Homo sapiens: one gene and its partners. The protein of the gene in region 3 interacts with the protein of the main gene of each other region in a biochemical or structural test. Each region holds a gene or a part of one and is shown on either strand. Other genes may lie near its edges.

Region 1 (5,100 bases), on a different chromosome or scaffold from region 3:
ACTTTTGGAACATTTTAGTGACCCTCCAAGCCTAAATACTTGCTATGTTTTGAAGAAACTTTGTCTAGCAAAGAGTTTAACATCCTTACATCATAGACTGTGAAAAAAAAAAAGGAAATTAGGTATTGCAGATCAGAATGCAGATCAGAAGGCTGGGCATGGTGACTCACGCCTGTAATCCCAGCACTTTGGGAGGCAGAGGTGGGCAGATCACTTGAGGTCAGGAGTTCAAGACCAGCCTGGCCAACATGGTAAAACCCCATCTCTAGTAAAAATACAAAAATTAGCCGGGTGTGATGGTGGGTGCCTGTAGACCCAGCTACTTGGGATGCTGAGGCAGAAGAATCACTTGAACCCAGGAGTCGGAGGTCTCTGTGAGCAGAGATGATGCCACTATACTCCAGCCTGAACCTTAGTGTTTGAAGTGTGTGTGTGTGTGTGTGTGCGTGTGTGTGTGTGTGTGTGTGTGTGTGTGTGTATTCCATGTACCTAAAGATGCAGAACAAATTTGTTGTTCACTGGGGTGACTCCCACACTAGACTGAAGAAAAGCAAAGCGAGACTCCTTCTTAAAAAAACAAAACAAAACAAAAGAAAAACTTCACAAAAAGCAACATTGGACAATTCATATCTCTGAAACTTATTGGTGTTTACAAAATCCAGCTAATCAGATTTGACAAGTTTAGGGTATGTCACTAGATTAATCTGTGGGTTTCTATAGCACTTATTATCCTCCACATAGCAACACAAAATACTCATATAAGCAAAAATACTCACTTGTAAAATGCAAAATGTTAAAAATGTATGCAATTGTTTTTGTATTATTTTTACTCAGACATTCCCTGTGATCTATTAAGTGACAATGTAAAGTATAAACAGTTTTTGTGCTACACTTGATCCATGGCAATATAAATAATTCAATTTATGCTGGAATTGGGAAATTTACTTTTTAACAAACATCTTCAAACACAATGTAATATAAAAATAGATTTTTAAATATACATTTTGATTTTTAATTAAATAGTTTTGTTTCTTTCTGCTTCATTTCACAGAGTCACTTAATAAAATCCATGGTACTTACAGAAAAATTCCTGATGTCATATGCATGTGTTTCACTATAAGGCAGTTATGAGGTTGATAAAATTTCTTCTACAAATTTTTTCATTAGACATACGCAAATCAATAAACGTAATCCAGCATATAAACAGAACCAACAATAAAAACCATATGATTTTCTCAATAGATGCAGAAAAGGCCTTTGACAAAATTCAACAACGCTTCATGCTAAAAACTCTCAATAAATTAGGTATTGATGGGACGTATCTCAAAATAATAAGAGCTATCTATGACAAACCCACAGTCAATATCATACTGAATGGGCAAAAACTGGAAGCATTCCCTTTGAAAACTGGCTCAAGACAGGGATGCCCTCTCTCACCACTCCTATTCAACATAGTGTTGGAAGTTCTGGCCAGGGCAATCAGGCAGGAGAAGGAAATAAAGAGTATTCAATTAGGAAAAGAGGAAGTCAAATTGTCCCTGTTTGCAGATGACATGATTGTATATCAGAAAACCCCATCATCTCAGCCCAAAATCTCCTTAAGCTGATAAGCAACTTCAGCAAAGTCTCAGCATACAAAATCAATGTGCAAAAATCACAAGCATTCTTATACACCAATAACAGACAAACACAGAGTCAAATCATGAGTGAACTCCCATTCACAATTGCTTCAAAGAGAATAAAATACCTAGGAATCCACCTTACAAGGGACGTGAAGGACCTCTTTAAGGAGAACTACAAACCACTGCTCAATGAAATTAAAGAGGATACAAACAAATGGAAGAACATTCCATGCTCATGGGTAGGAAGAATCAATATTGTGAAAATGGCCATACTGCCCAAGGTAATTTATAGATTCAATGCTATCCCCACCAAGCTACCAATGACTTTCTTCACAGAATTGGAAAAAAACTACTTTAAAGTTCATATGGAACCAAAAAAGAGCCTGCATTGCCAAGTCAATCCTAAGCCAAAAGAACAAAGCTGGAGGCATCACGCTATCTGACTTCAAACTATATTACAAGGCTACAGTAACCAAAACAGCATGGTACTGGTACCAAAACAGAGATATAGACCAATGGAACAGAACAGAGCCCTCAGAAATAATGCCGCATATCTACAACTCTCTGATCTTTGACAAACCTGAGAAAAACAAGCAATGGGGAAAGGATTCCCTATTTAATAAATGGTGCTGGGAAAACTGGCTAGCCATATGTAGAAAGCTGAAACTGGATCTCTTCCTTATACCTTATATAAAAATTAATTCAAGATGGATTAAAGACTTAAATGTTAGACCTAAAACCATAAAAACCCTAGAAGAAAACCTAGGCAATACCATTCAGGACATAGGCAGGGGCAAGGACTTCATGTCTAAAACACCAAAAGCAATGGCAACAAAATCCAAAATTGACAAATGGGATCTAATTAAACTAAAGAGCTTCTGCACAGCAAAAGAAACTACCATCAGAGTGAATAGGCAACCTACAGAATGGGAGAAAATTTTTGCAGTCTATCCATCTGACAAAGGGCTAATATCCAGAATCTACAGTGAACTCAAACAAATTTACAAGAAAAAAACAAACAACCCCATTAAAAAGTGGGCAAAGGATATGAACAGACACTTCTCAAAAGATGACATTTATGAAACCAAAAGACACATGAAAAAATGCTCATCATCACTGGCCATCAGAGAAGTGCAAATCAAAACCACAATGAGATACCATCTCACACCAGTTAGAATGGCAACCATTAAAAAGTCAGGAAACAACAGGCGCTGGAGAGGATGTGGAGAAACAGGAACACTTTTACACTGTTGGTGGGACTGTAAACTAGTTCAACCATTGTGGAAGTCAGTGTGGCAATTCCTCAGGGATCTAGAACTAGAAATACCATTTGGCCCAGCCATCCAATTACTGGGTATATACCCAAAGGATTATAAGTCATGCTTCTATAAAGACACATGCCCACATATGTTTATTGTGGCACTATTCACAATAGCAAGGACTTGGAACCAAGCCAAATGTCCAACAATGATAGACTGGATTAAGAAAATGTGGCACATATACACCATGGAATACTATGCAGCCACAAAAAAGGATGAGTTCATGTCCTTTGTAGGGACATGGGTGAAGCTGGAAACCGTCATTCTCAGCAAATTATCACAAGGACAAAATACCAAACACCGCATGTTCTCACTCATAGGTGGGACCTGAACAATGAGAACACATGGACACAGGAAGGGGAACATCACACACCTGGGCCTGTTGTGCAGTGGGAGGAGGGGGGAGGGATAGCATTAGCAGATATACCTAATGTTAAATGACAAGTTAATGGGTGTAGCACACCAGCATAGCACATGTATACATATGTAACTAACCTGCACGTTGAGCACGTGTACCCCGAAATTTAAAGTACAATTAAAAAAAGAAGAAAATTCAACATAGACAAAATCTCTCTTTGCACTATAAAGGTTTATTTTTTTCTTCTGTAACATATCTGTGTTTGGGTATATCCAATGATATATCCAAAGTATAGCAAGTATTTAGGCTCAAACTGCCATGGTTTTGACAGTGATTTTTTTTTTAAAGTAAGCCAAAATAAATAAAAATGGCATAAAACCTCATAAGGATTCATGTAACGATTACATGGAGAAATTATTTCCCCAGGTAGAGCAAGCCATCTAATTATTTCAAATATTGAAACAAATCTAGCCATTCATATAAATCACCCACTCATTAGCCTAATGGATCTTTGAAAGTATATCAATGGGGGTTGGGCGCAGTGGCTCACACCTGTAATCCCAGCCCTTTGGGAGACCGAAGCAGGTGGATCACGAGGTCAGGAGATCAAGACCATCCTGGCTAACACGGTGAAACCCCATATCTACTAAAAATACAAAAACATTAACCGGGCGTGGATGGCGGGCACCTGTAGTCCCAGCTACTCAGGAGGCTGAGGCAGGAGAATGGCGTGAACCCGGGAGGCGGAGATTGCAGTGAGCTGAGATCACGCCACTGCACTCCAGCCTGGACGACAGAGCGAGACTCCGTCTCAAAAAAAAATAATAAATAAGTGAAAAAATAAAAGTACATCAATGGGATGCAATTGAGTTAATATTCAATAACTTATCAAAGAAGGAAACTTTTATTGTTTCTTCCAGACCACTCAAAACAGTCAACAATATATATTAAACTTAACACAAATTTTAACTTTTTTAAAAATATCTCAATATGAAGTCCTTTTAGAGTTGACAAAGATGTCAGTAAGACGTAATAATAAAAGCAATTTTTATTAATTATCTATGATGATATGGACATTGTACTATGTATGTCCCTATGCAAGTCTTTAACAATGTAAATTCAGCAATTATTATATTACTAAGTTTTCTATATAAGATAATTTACTTTTATTAAAGGAAATATAACAAATACTTACTAGAGACAGAAGAGAGCTGAGAATAGAATGGAGTAAGTAATAATAAAGTCACTAAACTAAGGCAGTTGTATGTTTGTTGTCATAATATATAGCCAGATTATAGCTAGGAGAGATTTTTAGAAATTAATACTGAACCCTGGAGCTTCAAGGTAGATGTTTCCATTGAACTGTAAAATAGGATTAATTCAACGAAAATGCTAAAATTATGGGGAAGCTAGCAGTGGAAGTATTGTTGGTTGCTTCACCTTGTAACAGTATTAATACACAGACTTACTTATATTGCATTTCTTTCATACAAAGTATGAAAATACTATAAAATAGTATTTTAATAGTACTATAGTACGTTAATAGTATTTAAATAGTATTTAAATTTAATGGTATTTTAACAGTACCATAAAATACTATAAAATAGTATAGTATAAAATACTATAAAATGCAATACAAATAGCCTTTTAACTTATTTACATTGCAATACTCACAAATGCAAAGTATTATTTTTGCTGAATTTGATGCATTTCCTCTTTATTATACATTGTTGACTGTGAACACTTAAGAGTTAACTTTTATTATTGTTATTCTTTATGAGGTGCTTAATTTCTAGCTGAG
Region 2 (5,100 bases), on a different chromosome or scaffold from region 3:
CCCACTGTTTTTCTCTCTGCCACCTCTATTAGCTTAAGAAAGCCTTGGGGAAAATGTGTGGGACGTGTATCCTAAACACATTTCTCAGACAATATGTATCAGAAGACTTGAAAGTGAAGATACATGAAGGCAACAATTTAAAGCACAAAATAAATTCTTTAAAGACAATTCAGTATCATGTATTAGACTGAAAACTGGGAAACAAACTAAAGATATATTATCCACATAAGGAAATACTACAGAGACAGTAACAGTTTCCTATGACAAGTGTGTGCTAATGTGCACAAATGGGCAGAATATTAGGAAGAAGATGTAAGACAAAACATGTATTATACATATAATTTCAACTTATTAAAAAGCATAATAATTTGTAAATCAATTTGTTTTCCTCCATTGGTTTCCATTATTATGATGACAACATATCTTTAGTGATATTTAGTTTTACCTTTTCTCCTAATTCATCTGTTTTGAAAATGAATAGAAATTTCCTTAGTACAAATGTAACTTATTGTATTCTTCATATATTCAGCTATTTAATAATGTAGTTGGAATTATTAGTAAGAAGCTCTTTCTCACTTTCTAATACCCCGAGCTTTGCCTGAATTTAGGTGGTCATCATTGACTGAGACATCCAAGACCACTGCTTTTATTGCTTTTTGTAATGGCAAGGTCAAAGTTTCCTTGGTTTGAAGGGTGCAGTAACATCCTTTAAGGAGCTACATGTAATAAATATCTGGGTGCATTTTTTTTTTGGATATATGCGATACTGAAACAAATAATTATTTTAAAAATCTGCAAATAAGATTTTCTTCTGTATATTTAATAAAGCAGCAGTTACTAATTTTAAATTTAACATAATTCTCATGTATATGGGCAAAAAAGTGGTAAGAAACTAAAAGAGAGAAAAAGATGAGTTTCAAACACTGACGGCTTGCCTATCCCTAGAAACTATGTATTTTGCCTCCTCTCAAATAGTGGGAAGTTATCAAATTATATATTTTCCGCCAGAATAAAGTGAATTTACTAATATAAGAATTTCAAATAAATCAACTGTAGTAGAAAATTAAATCATTTTGTTATAGCTAACATGAGTATAAAACAGTTTTCACAAGTAATTTTTAATTTACAGATTAAGAAACTGAAATTTAGTGGGGGAAATTCAGTTTTTTTGTTTGTTTGTTTTTGCCACACAAGTAAAAATAGGAAAGCTAGGAAAGGTTGACATATCTTCTAATTTCTAAGTCTATTCTATTTCCCCTACCATAAGGAATGCTGAGAGATTAGTGTGGTGTTGTCTTGATTAATTTCTCTTTATTATTCTAGATAGGCAGGTCTATGGTTTCTATCCGTTTCTAGAAGAGAAAAAAAATGGCAAAAATGAAACACTGGGGTTCCTCCTGTCCTCCACTTGTGATCTTAGGAATGATTCTTAACTTCTCTGAACCTCTTCTTTTTCATCTGTATGGTGGGGATAATGACGATAATATTGCAAGATTTAAATGAGTTAGTACATGTAAAATGTTTAGAATAGTACCTGGCAGAAAGTAAGTGCTCAATAAATGTTAGCTATCCTTATTTCCATTCTTCCTCCTAAACATTTCCCAAAAGTATATAAGTTAATCGATTAGAATGCCTATCCTACATTGGCCCTCCTTTTCCCAGTAATGAACCAGATATTTCTTCCTAACCTGCTACAATCATATAAGAAGGGTGTAGACTCCTTCTTGTTTATATGGGGTCATACAAGGCATAGCCAAAATTTCCTCTGGAGGATGGGTACCTCCTGGAACGAGGTAAAGTATTTCTAGCATCCAATTCCCATTTGGAAGACAGGGGAGAAATAAATGCGCCATTATGATAATTCTAACTAGTTATATAAACGAAAAGCTTCAGTCCAGTGGAGAGTAAAGCGGTCCAAGCCACTGTTCAATGTAAACTCCCTCAAAGCATGGGCTAGAAGCACAGCAAGAAATCCATCACAATCTGGACCACGAGCAGCACTTGCGCGAGAACAAGACCTGCCTGGGACCCAGCTGCAGCATTCTCCTGTTCAAGTGGGGTCTCTCTATTTGCAAGAGAAATATGCCCCATGCCCTAGCAATAGATGAAACTCCAATAAAACAAGACAGACTTACTTTGTGAAATATCTATTAAGTGCATATTATTTTAAAAAGTTGATAGGCTAGAAAGATAAATACGTTAAATGCACTAGCTTTGATGGCATGAAATGAAGGGGTGGAGGCAAAGCAGAAAGGACATGGTTGCAGGTGAGATTTGGAAAGGGGTGGAAAGTTAACGAGGTGGAGGATACAGTTAAGTTGTTCCAGATGGCAGGATCTGACAGAGAAGGCCAGCGAGGGTTAGCAGAATGGATGAGGATGGGGAGACAGGAGAAATGAGGTCCAGCACAGAGAGAGAGAGCATTCTCAACCCAGATGATGATCAGTTCTGAATCATATCACAGAGTGGATGAGGAATCATTAGAGAAGACTGCTGAAGGAACCACAAGGCTAGACACAGACAGATGGGAAAGAGCAAAGTGACCAGAACAGAAAATCCAAGGCCACCAGCAAAGGAGCCATCAGGTTTGGAACACTGATACTGAACTCTGTGATGGATTCAGAATTCCTTGGATTAAAAGATTCTGCAGATGAGAAAAGATGGGAAATATTTTTCCTCTTCCATTAAGACAAAACATTTAAATGTGTTTCTTTAATTAAGATTACACTTAGGAAATGAGTTTCTAAATAGAAGAACTTTTAAACACAGGATGAGTGTCAGAGTTTAAAGGGATTTAGACGTCACCTGAGTAATCCATTAAAAGTTTATCAGACAAACTGTGAGATTGTTCTTGTCAGAGAGAATTGAGAATAAGATTACTGGTTGTCTGAGATGGTTGAGTTTCAGTTCTCTCTGGAAACAAGTCCTAGACGAATGTCTGACCTTCCCTTTCAAGCATAATGATTCCATGATTGGGGTAAGTGTAAGGAACAATGACTGAAAAAATGAGAGTGAGTGTGATCACAACCCAGCCTTTTAATCTTGCTCAGTGCCAGTGGAGAGAGCAATACCCATACATGCCCAGACAGCAGAAAAGGAGAAAAGATACTGAGGTTGGGAGGAGAAATCAGGAAGAAGAGAGGGAGAGAGAAAGAAAGTAGAATGCACAGCAGGGAGCAGTTCCCTGCCAGCCACAGATGTCTCACTTAGACACCCCATTGGGATGAAGGTCAACGGGGCTGCTTATAGTTTGTTAGTGGGAAAGGGACAGGGAGAGTTAATTCTATTTTAGGCCATATGTGTATTTGGGAAGAGAGAGAAAGTGAAGATAAGTAGAAAATAAAATGACACGTAGGCCAGCTATGATGAAAAATGTTGAAGTCTATACTAAAGTGAAGGCAAAGGTTTCCGACATGAGCTTTGAGCCAGTAGAGAAAAGACAGAGAGAGAGGGTGGGTGGCAGCAAAACAATGAAAGGTGCCCAGAGCCGTGCTCCCTGTGGAATGTCAGTAAATATTAATTGGCTGATGTTGGCATTGGTAGGCAGAGTGAAGCTTGTGAAAGAAAAATGCCATTGCCAGTGGAGCACGAAAGTTCAGATCTCGGAGCTCAAAATGGCAGCACCTGAGCAAGCAGCAGAGTCACATCCCATATCACCAGAGAAAGTGATTCTCTGCATATGAGGCCAAACTGTCTCAAGGAAAAGTAATCACACAATCATGACAAGAGAAAAAGAACAAAGTCTGTGGGAGCCATGAAAATATCTCCCCTTCTCTGAGAACATACTCCCTTCCCCTGAGGTATGGTAGCCCCTAGCTGAGAAACCAGGGCTGTCCCAGGTAAACAGCTGTGAAGGTAGGTGCCAAGAAGCCTAGATTTACCCACTCCAGAAAACCCTTTTGTCAGATGTCTCTGGAAACCTCACAAAATGTTATTTTGGGATTTGGCTCTAAGGTTGGGTAATTGGTAGACTCTCATTCTGGAGGAAGAAAAGAACGGCATTGCTTCTTTAGATTTCAATATTAGATGGGAAACGGAATGCTTTTGACGGTGCTTGGTGTTTTCATGAACCAAAGTTCCTCTCATAATGGCAGGCATGGGCCTTTTGGGTAAAGGTTATTTTCTTGCTCTTGTTCTACATTGGTAGGTACCTGATAAGGCAAAATGATTGAAACAGTGGCTTGAAACATTAATAAGAAAATGACTCAATTCCCAAGTCAGAGAAGTGCTAAGTTTACCTGAAATATATTCTACTATAATACTGTGGATCAGTGTCTATGTGGAGTGATCCAAGGACTTGTCTAGAAATACATGTTTTATACATCTTTTAAAATTACATCTGACCTAAAGAAAAAATATTTATTGTTCAATAATATATTCATTTTAAAAATGCTTTTTACACCTATAAATTGTCCCAGCCCAGAATTCTAAGTGCAAAAATGTCAGTGTCTGGCACATAGTAGGTACTTAATCGATATTTGTTAAGTATGTATTAGATATATGAAGAATGTAAGAATCAAGTAAAAATATCAAGAATGTGGGTGTTTGTAGAAAATTGTTTCCCTTTTATTCCATCATTTTCTCCTTAAGAAAATTAAGAAGAAATTGCAATTGCCATATTGCTTTTTCTTGTGGGTGATATCAACCACAAATAGCAAGGTAGTTTTGGAGTCATGAAGCAAACTTCCCCCTGCTAAGATCTGGGTAAGGTTTTAGCCACAAGAGGCCTAATAAAGCTCTTGAAGCATTTCCTAAGAGCTCACAGAAGATTTAAATGCCCTACTACTTTCAACTAGACAAATCCAATTCATTTTAACAAACAGTTTTGAAGTGCCTACTAAGTGTAATGCCTTGTGCTAAATGTCTGGAAGAGTGAGTGTTAGGTGGAGCCCTCAATGGGTATAAAGAAATATGTATGTTTGGGAGTTGAGGGTGAGGGTGTGGGAGTTGTGTGAGTAGGGAGAATGGGACAAGAAAGAAACTTCAAGTGTATATCCACCCCTGTCCCCAAATACACTCCTGACCCTAAAAGAAAGGTCATTTTAATATTGTAATTACATATGTTTCCTGGTTTTATCATTACAGCTTAAGAAAACAGCA
Region 3 (5,100 bases):
CCTGTAGTGCCACCTACTTGGGGGTCTGAAGTGGGAGGATCACTTGCACCTGAGAGGTGGAGACCGCAGTGAGCTAAGATTGCACCACTTCACTGCACTCCAGTCTGGGCGACAGAGTGAGACCCTATCTCAAAAAAAAAAAAAAATGCTTAGAGGGGGTATGAATTCTCTGGAATTTGCTCATTAGATTATAAGTGAAGATGACCAGGGTAAATGCCATTTGACCCAAGGTGCACTAAAATATGATCCATCTAATGCAGATTCTGGCAAACTTAATCTAACCATTAGCAGCTCATGGAGTTGACTGAATTCAGCCAGCTCTCCTTAGAAGTTATTTTCTCAGATCTTATTGCCATCTTTTCATTCTTTCTGATCTGCATTAGTCTTACTTTGTGGAACATGGCAGTAGGCCTGGGACTCTTAGAGAGTCCCCATCCTTGTAATGAGCAAAAAGAATATTGTTGCGCATTCCTATCGGGCTCTTAAGATTTCTTCCCAACCATACTGCTTTCTAGGTACCACTGTAGTGCCCTTGTAACCCTTAGATCTTTTCTTGCTGTGTTCAACACAGAGCCTGGCATACTATAACTGTAGCTGGTTTCTCCCATTTCCTTCTGGATTCCACATGGCCCCCTATTCTATTTCATCCTTTTGGGAATGTGTAATCTTTGACACTTATATTCCTAAACCCACTTTGGTATAATCTGGAAACTTTATGGCATGCTCTAGTCTGTGACAATCAGGATAACCCTGATTATACCAGCTTCTAATCAACTACATAAAGCGGGTGAACACCAGGGTCACCAACACCCATTTCCCAACTGCGGTGCACAGCAGCTTTTTAGCTTTGCCAACATTTGGGCCGGCACATGTGTTTGTGCGTGATTATTTGTCTCATGTACTATTGAATAAACGTCTTTGTAAGTAACTATGAATGTGGTTTTGTGCGTATGGGTGTAGGTGTGTAAGCAACTGGAGCTCAGATCTGTCTTAAAGTTTGCATAATTAATGTTTAGTATTTGGCTTTAATTAGTCTCTGTGCATTGTTAGCCTCGGCTTTCATCTGCTCTCAAATATCAAAGGAAGAATGAGTTCATTTTCCTTGAAGTTTATTGACTGTTACTGGTGGCAGAGCAAATTCCATAAACGAGCAGGTTCCATATGGAGCAAGTAGAAGGGGAGCTCTGAGTTGGTGAGGAAGGATGCGTGGAGTGGGGACTTGGAGTAAAGGATGGAAAGGTAGATCTCTCCTTTTTCCCTCCATTCCCATAAGGATACTGGATTAACAATGGGGGCTATCTGCTCAGCATTCCCTCTCCAAATTGGAGCCAGAGAGGGGAAATGATGCAAATCAGAGGAGGAAACACCTCACAGCTCCTCTGTTTCTCCATCCAAGGGGATGCCAATATCCACGTTGTAGTCTACAGGCTCCCCAGAGCTCAGCCAGGGAATAGGGGTTCGATTGAAAGAAGGCCTGTTGGAGAGGTTTTGGTTGTAGAGGACCAGGGGTTCACTCAGCAAGGGCCCCAGGTCAAACTTGGGCATCTGGAAGGTCATGCGTTTGGAGGCCTTCTCATATCCACCATAGGGCATTGCCGTCCTGAGAAGGGGACACATTATTTAATTAAGAATCAGAATAAAAGAAACAGAGCCTTATCATGAGATGCTACCCTCTTTGAGAATAGGGAAGTCTGTGAATTCTAGTTTGGGATTGCATCTGTACTCCTTCTTCTTCCTTAGCATCCCATTTTGCCTTCCTGGTTAGCTTGTTTCCCCAAAGCTAATAATGAGAAAAGGAGTCTAGTGTGTACTAGAGACTCTTGGATAGCTGTGACCCAGACCAGCATTTCAGAGAAAGTGACCCCAAATACTATAGACCCAAGGGCCTGAGGTCACCTTACATGACAATGTAGAAAGGCCAGGTGCGGTGCGGTGGCTCACGCCTGTAATCCCAGCATTTTGGGAGGCCAAGGTGGGTGGATCACTTGAGACCAGGAGTTTGAGACTAGCCTGGTCAACGTGGTGAAACGCCATCTCTACTAAAAATACAAACACCCCCCCCCCAAAAAAAAATTAGCTGGGCATGGTGGCGCACCCCTGTCATCCCAGCTACTCAGGTGGCTGAGGTATAGGAATTGCTTGAACCCAGGAGGTGGAGGTTGCAGTGAGCCGAGACTGCACCACTGCACTTCAGCCTGGGCAACAGAGCAAGACTCTGTCTCAAAAAAAAAAAAAAAAATTGCAATATAGAGACCCCCTCTCTCCAACCCTAGTGGACAGTGGATAGCCTGGCTAAGAGTAATTATTGTTGCCTGGAAAATCCAGGCTCCTTAGGACCAAATACAAGAGTACCTTTCTAGCTCTTCCCTATCCTTTCACACAGACCTCCTCTCCATGGGCTAGAGAAGCCTAATTCCAAAAGAACAGAGACTTAGAGCCATCTAAAGCAGGGTGGCCAGGCATGGTGGCTCACGCCTGTAATCCCAGCACTTTGGGAGCCCGAGGCGGGCAGATCACCTGAGGTCAGGAGTTTGAGACCAGCCTGGTCAACATGGTGAAACCCCATCTCTACTAAAAATACAAAAATTAGCTGGGCGTGGTGGCGGGTGCCTATAATGCCAGCTACTAGGGAGGCTGAGGCAGGAAAATCACTTGAACCCAGGAGGCGGAGGTTGCAGTGAGCTGAGATCATGCCACTGCACTCCAGCCTGGGCAACAAGAGCAAAACTGAGTCAAAGAAAAAGAAGGAAAGAAAGAAAAGAAAAAAGTATAAGGAAATAGAATCATATTACAGGGAGAATAATGGCATCCTAACCTTGAATGGAAGAGAGCCTCAAGAGGCCTTCAGACATGTAAAATGTTATTCGCATTTAACATTCAAAGCAGGCCGGGCACGGTGGCTCACCCCTGTAATCCCAGGTCTCAGGTAGGCAGAGGCGGGAGGATAGCTTGAGCCCAGGAGTTCGAGACCTGCCTGGGCGATATAGCGAGACCCCATTCTCCACAAAAAGGAAGCAAAAAAAAGACAAAAAATAAATAAGTGTAACGTTCAAAGCAACCCAGGCTCAGAGGTAGAGTGATTTTCCCATGCCTACACAGCTAATAAATGACCATTGAGCTAGAATTCAAATCCTGCCTCCCAGCAAATTTTTTCCTTCATCACACTGCTATGATGAAGCTGAGATAGAGTGAAAAGAGCAGGGCCTTTGATTAGGACCCCCATATCCCTGCCATCTCTCCTTAGCCTCCTTCTGAAACATTTGAATTAGTCTCCATCCTAACTAAAGACACAGTGCCTCACACTAGAATGCATCTGGTTCCTTCCTCACCACCCCTACCTGTTGAAGGACTTATATTTGGGAAGTTCAGCTTTGGCCCCATAGGCCAGCAGGTCAATGCCAAGTTCCATTTTTTGCTGGGGGTCAACCCCCATGGCTCGCTCCCATGGGGAAATATAGGTCTTGAACACAGTGATATGTTTTCCTTCTCCGCCTGCCTGGTCTCCTGGTAGCCATGGGAGAGAAAATTCAGTCAAATAATAGCATTTAGTAGCCAATGAAAGGTAATCCCACGCCCCTACACTAGGGAAATTGCAAGAGCCAGGGACTAAAGATATAATATCCTGGTAATTGTATAAGGTTTGTGGCATAATGATAGTCTGTGGGCAGATCTGTGACTGAATCCGAAAAGCCAGGAAAGTAACTGAAAAACAAGGCTTCTGGGTAGAATAGACACATCTCTATATACTCCTGGACCCAGGTAATTCACCAAGATATTTATGATATTTAAACTGATATTATTATATTTAATATTAAGATATTTAAACTGACCTCCTCTGCTCCCCACACTCAGCGTAGACATCATTCCTGGGACAACTCTGCTCTAGGGACCAAACACATTACTCTTGGGTGAGTGTACTTGCCTGATCCTGTCTCACCAACCCCTGCTGTGCCAGCAGCTCCTCCTCTGCCAGCCTGGCCCGCGGGACCACCTGTACCCCCAGCTCCAGACCCAGAGCCCAGATGGTGCTGCTGATCAGAGCCATACTGTCCGGCAGAGCCACTGCCCCCTGCCTGGCTGCCGCCTCTGCCGTTGCTCTTGCTGTATGAGAATCCCTGACCAGCTGTGCCCAGCTGTCCCCCCACTGTTGGAAGGAACTTCTGGAAGTGATCCTGAAAAGAAGACAAAGTGAGGGGAAGGTTAGCAATGGGTATGGAAAATATACAAAAACAGAGGTATGTTTAGCAAAGGCAGAAATAGTGGCTAACCAGAAGACCCTGAATTTTCTGATATTTCCCCCTCCAGTTGATGGGTAGTACATGGGCTGACTAAGAGAATTAAACTCTTCTTTTTGTTTGTTTGATTTTTTGTGGTTTTTTTTAGACAGAGTTTCGCCCTTGTTGCCCAGGCTGGAGTGTGATGGCACGATCTCGGCTCACCGCAACCTCAGCCTTCCAGGTTCAAGCAATTCCCAGCCTCAGCCTCCCGAGTAGCTGGGATTACAGGCATGCACCATCACACCCGGCTAATTTGATATATTTTTAGTAGAGGTGGGGTTTCTGCACGTTGGTCCGGCTGGTCTCAAACTCCGACCTCAGATGATCCACCCACCTCGGCCTCCCAAAGTGCCGGGATTACAGGCGTTAGCCACCGCACCCAGCCCGAATTAAACTCTTCTTAAGAGGTAGGACTCCCTTGGCTCGTTTCCTCCAGTTATACCTAGGGTAAGGGCAGCGTGTTCTCCACACTCCCCTTTCTCATCCTTAACAAGTCAAAAAAGACCAACACGCCTGCCCAGCTTTAAAAAAAAAAAATGAAAAAAAATTCTTTTGCTTTTTGAGACAGAATCTGGCTCTGTCACCCAGGTTGGAGTGCAGTGACACAATCTCGGCTCACTGCAACCTCCACCTCCCTGGCTCAGGCAATCCTCCCACCTCAGCCTCTCAAGTAGCTGGGACTACTGGCATGCTACCACACCCAGCTAAATTTTGTATTTTTTTTTTTCCTAGAGACAGGGTTTGCCATGTGCCCAGGCTGGTCTCAAACTCCTGGGCTCAAGTGATCCATCTGCCTCAGCCTCCCAAAGTGCTGAGATAACAG
Region 4 (5,100 bases), on a different chromosome or scaffold from region 3:
TAGGTTCCAGAAGCAAATAAAATCAATGTGGTTCTGACTCTCAGGGAACCTGCAGTCTAGGAGTACTCATGTTTTCTACTTTGGCTCAAATTCTGGACTCTTTTATTATTTTTTAAATGACTTTTTTTTTTTAAGACAGGTTCTTGCTCTGTTGCCCAGGCTGGAGTGCAGTGGCGCAATCATGGCTTACCGTAGCCTCGACCTCCTGGGCTCAAGAGATCCCCCTGCCTCAGCCCCACAAGTAGCTGGGATCATAGGCATGCACCACCACACCTGGATAATTTTTAATTTTTTTGTAGAGATGGGGGTCTCGCCATGTTGCCCAGGTGGGTCTCAAACTCCTGGGCTCAGGTGATTCTCCTGCCTCAGCCTCCTAAAGTGCTGGGATTATAGGCGTGAGCCACCTTGCTCAGCCAAATTATAGTCTTACCCTCTAAAAATTCTACTTGTTTCCTCTTCAAAAAACAAACAAACAAAAAATACAACAGGAAGAAACACTTTATTTATATACTTATTTTTGAGTCATAAAACCTGGATTTTCATTTTAGCTCTCCTTATTAGCTTTGTGAACTTGGGCAAATCAGTTAACCTCCCTTATCCTCCCTGGTCTCCTCCTCCTCAGAGAAATAGGCGAGTAATACCTGCTCTTCCTGCTTCCCAGGACCGTTGGAATCATTGTTGTTCTCCAACCCCCACTTTCTGGGCAGCACCTTCTCCCCTACCTTTCTGGCTCGTCCTGAAGGGGAGGCTCTTCCTATTCCCTTCCCCATTGCTTTGCCCTTGTATCTGCTCATCCTCCTCTCTCCCCTCTCCAGGAGAGACGTTTCAGAGCCCTTGCCTCCTTCACCATGCCGGTTGCCGCCACCAACTCTGAAACTGGTAAGAAGGGGGTGAGGATGTTAGCTTATTTCAGTGGTTCAGAGGGTGCCAGGCGAGGACTTAGGGGTGGGCACTTGCACAGCTCCAGATAAGAACCAACTGGCTCCACTGCTGTCCACCCTACCACTCAGCCATTCCTTCTGGCAGCTGCTGTGGCCATCTCCTCTGTGTGGGTTCCTGTGCTGGAACGGAGAAGAGAAAGAATAAGACCCATACCTGCTCCAGTGTAGGGCTGGAGCACAACTCACCTCCGTGGAGGGCAGGGGATGCATGCTCCAGAGGTGACCCGTACTATTGCTGGAGGGCAGTGGCATAGGACCAGGCCTTCAGGAGGTGGCCCCGGAGCTGGGCCTTGGAGAATGGCTTGGGGGTGGAGGGATTACAGCAGCACAGCCTGGGGCTGAGAAGTCCATAATCGCTGCCCACTAGGCCAGCATGTGCCAGAGGTGGACAGGGGGTACTGGGGACCAGGAAGCTGTGAGTGAAGGAACAAGAATACCAGGTTAGGATACCTGGACGTGGCTCTGTAGGAGGCATTAGGACAAGGGAGTGGGCCACTCAGACAAACTAGCAAAGCCTCAGTGGCAAACTGCTTAACCTCTTGGAGCTCGCATTTCTTCTTCTGTAAAGAGGCTGCTGTGAGACGCAAAGGCTGTAATGGGAGAGCACATTACTTTTAGGAATAGTCATAATTATTATGCTGCTGTTGCTGCCGCTGCCACCAAGTTGTTGTTGTTGTTTTTGAGACAAGTTCTGGCTCTTTAGCCTAGGCTGGAGTGCAGTGGCGCAAGCTTGGCTCACTGCAACCTCTGCCTACCAGCCTCAAGTCATTCTCCCACCTCAGCCTCCCAAGTAGCTGGGACTACAGGTGTGCACCACCATGCCCAGCTAATTTTTGTATTTTTCGTAAAGACAAAAATGTTGCCCATGCTGGTCTCAAACTCCTGAGCTCAAGTACTCCACCCGCCTCGACCTCCCAAACTACTGGGATTACAGGTGTGAACCACTGTGCCTGGCCTGAGTTGTTATTTTGGCATTAACCCTGTGTCCTTGAAACAGTCACCTCCTTTTGAAGACCTGAGATTTCCCTAAGATGAGATGATGGGACAAGATCAGTGTTCTTAACTTTTTTCTTTTTCTTTTTTTTTTTTTTTGAGATGGAGTCTCCCTCTGTTGCCCAGGCTGGAGGGCAGTGGTGGGATCTCGGCTCACTGCAACCTTCACCTCCCAGGTTCAAGTGATTCTCCTGCCTCAGCCTCCCAAGTAGCTGGGATTACAGGCACCTGCTATCATGCCCAGCTAATTTTTGTATTTTTGTAGAGACTGGGTTTCACCATGTTGGCCAGGCTGTCCTGACCTCAGGTGATCCACCTGCCTTGGCCTCCCAAAGTGCTGGGATTACAGGCATGAGCCACCACACCTGGCCTGTTCTTAATTTTATTGGTCCTGAGTCACTTAGAATCTGGTGACAGCAGTGAGCCCTCATCGTAGACATATACATCCATGCACAAAAGGTATATTCTACTCTAGGGGATCATGGATTCCCGTAGTGCACGCAGGACCCCAGAAGGTTAAGTTCCCTGTGCTAGAGGCCCTCTGAGGCCCGGGCAGCTGGGAACTGCTATGGTTCTGCTCTGAGTTGTCTGAACTTCCCCCTGCCTGGATGCCTCCCTCCCATGCAGCTCCTTCCCTTGCTCTAGGCCCCACTACTGCCTCTGCCAGAGGTTCCAGGGCTGCCACTTTGGGTAGAATGATTCCTCTGTGCCTCCTCTCCGAGAAAGTGAAGGGAGTGAGCCAGGGCCTAAACTGTGGTACACTTGTCCAGGAAAGGCCTCTTCTCCTTGCAGTGGAGGGATGGCACCAATGTCCCCAGCTTCTGCAGCATCAGAGGGCTCAGTCCCCCATCTCCTGTCCAGCCTGCTGGGCTCCCTGGGGTCTCCCTGCCTCTTTCAGCCTGCCTAGGCCCCACTGTAAGCTGCTTAGGCATTAATTAAACCCACCCCTGAGCCTGTGCTTAATGGCCTCTCCAGCCGGGACTGCCCAGTAAACCCACCAATAGTGCCTGACTGGGGCGTAGGAGGAGGAGCAAGCCCAGCAATTTGGCTTCGTTGTTGCAGACCACTTGATGGGGGCGTGGTGGGGGAGGATGGGGGACAGGGAGTGGAGCCTTGGGGTGTGGCGGTGGGTTCTGCTTCCTCAAAGGACTCCTGGGGCTCCTGCTCCCCTTCATGTTGTTCGAGGGGCTGCTCCTGGCTTCTCATATTCAAAGGAAGAAGTACAAAGTGTTTTTCTTCCTTCAGGCAGCCTCTGTCCTATCCTGAGCTACATTAGCTCCCAGCTTCAAAAATCTAATGGTGGATTCTGCCCCTTATTATCTGGTGGTCATTATACTTCCCACAGGATAGAGAGACAGCTGTGTCCCTGCCTCTGAGTTCAGGCTCCCCTTCCCTCCTCCTCCCCTGGGAGATCCCTGCCTTGGACTCTGCAAAGGGCAAAGCTAATAAGATCCTTTTTCCGCCCTTCCCCATGGGTCAGTATGGTTGAAGGGAGGGAAAGGGTATGGGTGTATTCCTCTTGCAGGGAGACCCCATATCTACTTTGGGTAGAGTCAGGGGCCCTTTTCCTGAGACTTGGGAGATAAATGGACAGTGGCACTGGGCTGAGAACTTAGAGATCCTGAACCTGGCATCTCCTGACCTGCAGCCTTGCTCCCTCTTCCCCTGTCACCAGATTCCCTCCCTTTTTTGGATCAAGGCTGGGATATGTGGCTGCTTTCAGGTGGAGCTGTCCCTTTAAATCTCTCCTCCATCCCTGGGTTACTGTCCTGGTGTGTAATTCTACTGTCATGGCAACCAGGGGTGCAATGCGACCTGGTGCCACTCCTCAGGGAATGTCTGAGTGGAGGCTGCAGTACCCTGATGGTGGCCTCTTGGGCACAAGATCTCAGAGGAATGGGGTCACCGGAGCGGAGCTGAGTCCTTCCCTTCTGCCCACACTTTTCCCTGTGTGCAAATGTGCCCTCATTTTTCCTTTCTGGGGAACTGAGTTCCAAGATGCCTGACTTGCTTCCTGGGCATCATCCCCTTCATTAAGAGGAAGAACTCATGGGAGATGGGGGAGGGGAAGAAGCTGCTGTGAGGCGAGGGGTAAGCAGGGCTGGGGCACCATCCCTACCCACAGCGATGCCACCTCCCCCACGTACCCTGCCTCCCAGTGGCTGACCAAGGGTGGGTAGGGGGAGGCGTCTGAGGCTTGAGGTATTTGCCCCATGCCCAAGTGAGGCTGCCTCCCGGTGGAGGGCTGAGTCGTTCTTGGGGACTTCCTTAGACTGAGGGACTATTGTAAAGGAAACAGGGCCTGGAGAGGGGACTGAGAGCAGAGGTCAGAGGGCATAGGGAGGAGGTGGCATGGGGTGTATTAGAGGAGGGGCTTCTAGAAAAGAGGGTACAGGGACAAGATGGGCCAAGACTTTTCTCCCTCGGGTCTCCTGAAGCTGGCTGTGAGGGGAGGGTCTCGGAGTACCGCGCCAGTCTTGAAGGGGCAGCATGCCTACCCCCTCCTCAAAACTTCCTGTTAGCCGCCTCCTCCCCATCCCCACCGACACTGACATGCTGGGGATCGGGCAATCTGTGGGACTAGGGCTCCCTCCCACCACTCTTCTCCCACCCGGGTTACCGCCTGCTCTGCACCGCGCAGCGCCAGTCAGGGCTTTAGCCAATCAGCAAGGCGGTCACGGCGGCTGAGCCTTCCCATTGGCTGGTTCCTCAGAGGGCGCTCCTCGACTCCCGCCTTCCCCAGCCCGGCCAGGCTTTGGCTGGGGAGGCGGTAGACGGCGGCGTGTAGGACGCTCCGGGAGTCCCCGGGTCTGGGGGCCGCCATGGCAGGCAGCCCAGGCAGCGGGGTCTCCTTGGAGGGTATATCCCTGGAGTCTTCTGAGGAAGCGGAGCTCCAGAGGGAAGGTAGGGAAGGGCGGGCCAGATGGGGGCGGGGCAGCTGGCCCCTTAGCCTACCTTCCTCCAGCAGAGTCGGGGCATCTGGGGAGGGTGGCCTGGGAGAGGTCATCTGAGGGCACCTTCAGGAGAGCTGTCCTGGGCAGAGGGCACCAACTCCCTTGGCTCAGTCCTCCCCTAGATAACGGAGGGAATCTGGCATACCCTGGCAGGAAGGGAAGGGTCCCTGCCCTGGCCTCTTTCAGAGCCCACTGAGGGCCTCGCAGGTCTC

The links. The genes of interacting proteins can lie anywhere in the genome.
Region 1: the proteins of MYOZ1 (region 3) and MAGI2 interact in a test that uses a peptide from one of them, tested with the Homo sapiens proteins (one large-scale study listed by IntAct).
Region 2: the proteins of MYOZ1 (region 3) and GRIP1 interact in a test that uses a peptide from one of them, tested with the Homo sapiens proteins (one large-scale study listed by IntAct).
Region 4: the proteins of MYOZ1 (region 3) and MPP2 interact in a test that uses a peptide from one of them, tested with the Homo sapiens proteins (one large-scale study listed by IntAct).

What each region holds. Positions count from the first base shown.
Region 1 is NC_000007.14:79,442,840-79,447,939, forward strand, and holds part of MAGI2 (membrane-associated guanylate kinase, WW and PDZ domain-containing protein 2), read right to left. Parts: intron 1-5,100. UniProt on the Homo sapiens protein: Seems to act as a scaffold molecule at synaptic junctions by assembling neurotransmitter receptors and cell adhesion proteins. Plays a role in nerve growth factor (NGF)-induced recruitment of RAPGEF2 to late endosomes and neurite outgrowth.
Region 2 is NC_000012.12:66,671,749-66,676,848, forward strand, and holds part of GRIP1 (glutamate receptor-interacting protein 1), read right to left. Parts: intron 1-5,100. UniProt on the Homo sapiens protein: May play a role as a localized scaffold for the assembly of a multiprotein signaling complex and as mediator of the trafficking of its binding partners at specific subcellular location in neurons.
Region 3 is NC_000010.11:73,630,562-73,635,661, forward strand, and holds the end of MYOZ1 (myozenin-1), read right to left. Parts: intron 4,173-5,100; coding exon 3,923-4,172; intron 3,505-3,922; coding exon 3,339-3,504; intron 1,601-3,338; coding exon 1,369-1,600; 3' UTR 1,051-1,368; downstream 1-1,050. UniProt on the Homo sapiens protein: Myozenins may serve as intracellular binding proteins involved in linking Z-disk proteins such as alpha-actinin, gamma-filamin, TCAP/telethonin, LDB3/ZASP and localizing calcineurin signaling to the sarcomere.
Region 4 is NC_000017.11:43,900,209-43,905,308, reverse strand, and holds part of MPP2 (MAGUK p55 subfamily member 2), read left to right. Parts: intron 1-815; coding exon of another isoform or gene 816-848; coding exon 849-879; intron 880-3,744; exon of another isoform or gene 3,745-4,025; intron 4,026-4,684; exon of another isoform or gene 4,685-4,756; coding exon of another isoform or gene 4,757-4,838; intron 4,839-5,100. UniProt on the Homo sapiens protein: Postsynaptic MAGUK scaffold protein that links CADM1 cell adhesion molecules to core components of the postsynaptic density. In CA1 pyramidal neurons, required for synaptic KCNN2-containing channel function and long-term potentiation expression.